2 separate regions of the Homo sapiens genome follow, and region 1 is linked to region 2. A link means that fine-mapping ties the variant in region 2 to the expression of a gene that starts in the linked region. Tissue or cell type: prefrontal cortex. Region 2 holds a variant in brackets; the other region holds the start of a gene. All regions are shown on one strand. Distances are from middle to middle.

What was found. PIP is the estimated chance that this variant, and not a neighbour inherited with it, causes the effect.
Region 1: DCBLD2 starts here. The variant in region 2 is fine-mapped to the expression of DCBLD2 in prefrontal cortex (CommonMind, PIP 0.95).

The regions. Positions count from the first base shown.
Region 1 is chr3:98,900,498-98,903,117 of GRCh38, forward strand. It overlaps DCBLD2 (discoidin, CUB and LCCL domain containing 2), which reads right to left and starts at 1,198. Exons shown (of 16, transcript NM_080927.4): 1 at 625-1,198. The coding sequence starts at 829. It overlaps LOC105374002 (a long non-coding RNA gene), which reads left to right and starts at 1,517. Exons shown (of 2, transcript NR_189121.1): 1 at 1,517-2,020. RefSeq lists enhancers at 97-813, 814-1,529 and silencers at 637-1,326, 1,467-1,516.
Region 2 is chr3:99,475,829-99,478,593 of GRCh38, forward strand. The region is part of intron 1 of LOC105374007 (a long non-coding RNA gene); the gene reads right to left. Among named protein-coding and RNA genes, the nearest start is that of COL8A1, 160 kb to the right of the region's middle. The variant GT/G (reference allele first, on the strand shown) is at 1,464.

The DNA of each region.
Region 1 (2,620 bases), 580 kb before region 2:
TTTCTGGAAAGGCTTACCTTTTTAATGTGGAGAGCTTCACTTGGGCAAATTAGCATAGCGTTGGGTCAGACCCAGTGTTTGACCAAGGCAGTCTAGACCACCAGCCTCAATGATGGATTGTAAAGAACATGTTCTGAATCCAAGACTCAGAGATAAGCAGAAACTATTCCATTCGCTTCAGAACCCGGGCTCTTTCACAAAGGATCATAATTACCACCACTTACCTTTAATAGGCTTAAGATGCTATTTAATTAACCTGCCTTCCTACAGTGTCCATCCATCCGTGCAGCTTAACTTTAGGGGTCATTACCTCCAAAGGTTCTTTTTCCTCCCCAAAATTTTCCCCAGAAGGACCTAATATCAACGAGGCTTTCATAGCAGGGTCTCACGTCCCCCTTTCAGAAAAATAAATGGCCTTGCCAAAAAGTAAAGCCGCGCCAACTTGGGGGACAGACGGGCAAGACCTTGCCTTTGCAACTCAACCCCGTGAGTACCCAGCCAGGTCCGGCCACGCACGAAAGCGCACCGCGCCTCCCTGCAGCGTCTGCAGATTTGTTCAGGGGCCAAGAGACCCGCAGCCCCGACGGAGGTTCCCCCGCCGCTCACTCCCCTGGGACCACTCACCTTGCTGGGCTCCAGCGTCCTCGAGCAGCAGGAGCAGGACAAGTAAGAGCAGGAGGAACAGAGGCATGGAGAAGGAGGAGGAGTTGGAGCAGGGAGGGAGGGAGCGGGAGAGGGGGAGCGCGGCCCAGGCGGGGGCGGCGGCCGCGGCCCGGACTTGGGGACACTGCGGGCAGCGCCTGGCTCTCACCACCGCCCGGCTCGCCATCGCGGCGGCCGGCAGTCTGCCTGCATAGTGCGGGTGCCTCGGCAGCCCCGCGCGCCTCTGGCCGCGGCACCCGACCAGGAGACGGCGGCAGCGGCGGGAGAACAAGAGGCAGCCCTCGCCTCACCCCGCGCCGGGACCCTTCCGCCCCTCACCCCGCTTTCACCTACTCCTCCTTCGTCCCTTCCCTCCGCTCCCCGCGCCGAGACCCCAGGCCGGAGCGCAGGGGAGGGGAGGGAAGGAAGCGGAGTCCTCGAGCCGCGGAGGACGGCCGCGGCGGAGCTAAGGAACGTGCCTCCCGCGCCGCGCTCCTCACCAGGGTCGCCGCTCGCCGCGCTCACCCGCGGCTCCGGCTAGCTGGCAGGCAGGCCCGCAGCCAGCTCCCTCGCGCTCCCTCTCGCGCGCGCCGGCCACGCCCCCTAGGCACCGCGGCCAATCCTCGGCCAGCTCTGGTCCGTCTCCTTCCGCGAAACCCAATCAGCATGCTCGCTCCTCGCTCGACCCGCTAGTTCTCCGGCCCATTCCTCGAGCTCCACCGCCCCTTACCTCCCTCTTCCAATCCCCTTCGGCCTTTGGAGGCGTCCCACCCGCCTCCTCCAATCCAGGTCCCGCCCTCCAGCTTCGGATCCCCGCGGCCCCCGCCCGGCCCGGGCGCCTGTTATTGTTGGGCCCTCAGCCCAAACTGATCCCGCAGAGGCGGCAGCCAGCTCGTCAGTGACTTCCGGGACGTCCCCCATCCCGCGCTCCCTGCTCCTCAGGCCCAGCTTGCTCCTTGCTCCTTTCTCCTCGCTCCTCCGACGCACATCAGACCACTGGAAGGGGGTGGGAAACCTGGATCCTGGGTTGTTTTAGCTGGGAGCTGAGTCTAAGGGACTTTTTTTTTTTTTTTAATGGCAGAGCGTGGCTTGTTTTGTTAAAACTGCCGCCAGTTGTTGCAACAGCTCCGAGTTAGAATAATAGATGCAGTGTTCAGTTTTTAATATATGTGTTCCCTGTTTTCTCTGCTCTTTTTATGGCGGGGGGTGGGGGACAAAAAAGTGTAAAACAAGATCCGTGCCGCAAAGGCAATTTAAACCTAACATCCCAACCTTCATGCAGCCATTCTACAAGGAGTTGTTGAGCACCTGCTGTCTATCTACAGAAATCTTGAAATGTGGAACAGAGATGGAAATATAGCATGCAAGTCAGAATGAAGTAAGTGCTAATTAGAGTCACAAGCAGTTTGATGGAGACTGTAAGCCTATGGAACGACAAAAAGAATTTTAGGAAAGAGGAATGCAGAGGTCTACGCAGTGATTTATTTTAGAAGAGAGTGGCCATGTAGGATGTTTTTAACAGCAGTCCCTGAAAGGACAATGGTGTCATTAGCAAATACAAAAAACTGCTAAGGTGGAACAAGTTGTGTGGGAAAGTAAGTTAATTTTGGACGTATTGAATTTGAGATGCCAACTTAGATAATAAGTGAAGCTATGTAACAGGCAGATGGATATTTTAGTCGAAAGCTCAGATTGAGAGCTTTGAAATTATGGCTCTGGGAGTCATACATAGCCATACATGTATACATATACATATGTATACATAGTCATACATAGATGTGATATTCAAAAACATGGAAGGGACTGATATCCTTCAATGAAAGTCTAAGTTGGAAAGGACTTTGGAGGTCGTATGTTTCAACTCCCCTGCATATTTCTTATACAATAATCTCTTTAACCAAATTTATTCAATTAACATTTATTAAATGCCTAAGAAACCCTATTATGCTCTAAGCCATTGTGGGCATTGGGCATAAAA
Region 2 (2,765 bases):
TTCATAATATTATCTGACTGAATGTATTGTGATCTGTGTACTTTCAATTCTGAAAACTTATGGATTCTTTATTTTTTCTTGATCAATCCTATTAAAACTTTATCAACTTTAAGTCTCAAGCCTCAATGTTGTTAATTTTTCTCCTTTTCATTGTTTATTTCTGTTTTTTTATTTATTTTCTTAGGTTTTCTTTAGTTTTGATGTGCTTTTTACTATGTAGCTTCTTGAGTTGTAAGTTTAAATAATTGATTTTCAGTCTTTCTTCTTGTCTAATATATGCAGCATATTCTCTGACCACAACAGCATTAAGCTAGAAATTAGAAAACATTTTGAACTAAAATAAAATAGAAACATGCCAAATCAGAATTGTAGTGCTGCAGTTTCTCTCTAAGTACTACATTACCTGCAGCAATATAATAATATGTTTCCACTGTAATTCTGGTTTTTTCATATATAATATATACTATACGCAAATATATATGACATTACAATTCTTGTTTCATACATACAGCCACTAGTCATTTGTATTTATCCACATAATTACTCTCCTGAAGTTTGAAATTTTCTCCTATATTTTCATGTTGCATCTGGAATCATTTTTCTTTTTTTTCTTTTTCTTTTTATTTATTTATTTTTATTATATTTTAATTTCTGGGGTACATGTGCAGAACGTGCAGGTTTCTTATATAGGTATACACATGCCATGGTGGTTTGCTGCACCCATTAACCCGTCATCTACATTAGGTATTTCTCCTAATGCTATCCCTCCTCTAGTACCCCACCCCCAAATAGGCCCCGGTGTGTGATGTTCCCCTCCCTTTGTCCATGTGTTCTCATTGATCAACTCGCACTTATGAGTGAGAGCATGCAATATTTGGTTTTCTGTTCCTGTGTTAGTTTGCTGAGAATGATAGTTGCCAGCTTCACCCATGTCCCTACAAAGGACATGAACTCATCCTTTTTTATGGCTTCATAGTAGTCCATGGTGTATATGTGCCACATTTTCTTTATCCAGTCTATCATTGATGGGCATTTGGGTTGGTTCCAAGTCTTTGCTATTGTGAATAGTGCAGCAATAAATATACAGGTGTGTGTCTTTATAGTAGAATGATTTATAATCCTTTGGGTATATACACAGTAATGGGATTGCTGGGTCAAATGGTATTTCTGGTTCTAGATCCTTGAGGAATAGCCACACTGTCTTCCACAATGGTTGAACTAATTTAAACTCCCACCAACAGTGTAAAAGCATTACTATTTCTTGACATCCTCTCCAGCATCTGTTGTTTCCTGACTTTTTAATGATTGCCATTCTAACTGGTGTGAGATGGTATCTCATTGTGGTTTTGATTTGCATTTTTCTAACTACCAGTGACGATGAGCATTTTTTCACATTTTTGTTGACCACATACATGTCTTCTTTTGAGAAGTGTCTGTTCATATCCTTCACTCACTTTTTGATG[GT/G]TTTTTTTTCTTGTAAATTTATTTAAGTTCCTTGTAGATTCTGGATATTAGCCTTTTGTCCGATGGATAGATTGCAAAAATTTTCTCCCATTTTGTAGGTTGTCTGGAATCATTTTTCAGCTTGAGAGTAGTTCATTTAATTTTACAAAGGTGGGCCTACTAGTGACAAATTCTTTATTTTTTATTTGACTAAAACTATCTTTATCTTCATTTTTTGAAGGATATAAAAATATTGTGTGTGAAATTATAGGTTGGCAGTTATTTTAACATTTTTAAGATGTCATTTTATTGTTTTCTAGTTTCCATCATTTTGGTTAAGAAGTTAGATTTCAGTCTTAGTGTTTCTCTTTTTAAGTCAACAACTGTAAGCTTTTCTCTTTATATTTGGTTTTCAGAAGATTCTTTGATATACTGTGGTGTAGTTTGCTTTGTTTATCTTCAAATTGTGGTTCTCAAAGCTTTTTGAATCTCTCAGTTGTTATCTTTCATCAGTTTGGAAAATATAAATAGTGATTCCACCCATTTTCTCTTTTTACTTCTGTGATACCTATTATATGTATGTTAGACCTTTGGATCATCCTATACATCTCTATTCATTTTTTCTTTTAATTTTTTCCTAATCTTAATTTTATGTGTTTTTATTGACTTATATTTTAATTCACTTGTCCTGTATACTTCTGTTTCTAATCTACTGTTAAATCCATCTATTGAGTTCTTAATTGCGGAGATTGTATTTTTCAATTGTATATTATCTATTTCTTTTTATTTAACAGAATATAATTCTCTGGAGAAAATCTCCATACTTTCACCTATTCTTTTTATCTTTTTTCTAATTTATTTAATATATTAATTATTGTTATTACAAAGGCTTTGACTGGTAACTCTGATATCTGGATCATTTATTAGTCTGCTACTATTTCTATCTTTTTCTTCTTCATTACTAATAAAAATTTTCCTGTCTTTTGGCATGTATAGTAATATTTTATTGTATGTCAGACATTAAGCATAAAAGAAATAAAGAGATTCCAAATAATGTGATGTTTCACCAGACAGTGTTTCCCCTTTCTTCTGTTATGTCACTCAGTTAAGCAGCTGACCATTTTGCAGAGTCAGGAATTGATATAGGTTAGAGCTGGACTATAGATTGTATAAGTCCCAGTATACATCTGTTTCAGTCATCTTCTTGAAAATGACCATCTCAAGCTTTTAATTAAGAGCCTAATTGGTTTCTTTCTCTGCAGTTCTGAAAGACTTCAGAATTTCCAGCTCTATCGTTCATAAGTTTCCAGCCCAGTTCTTTA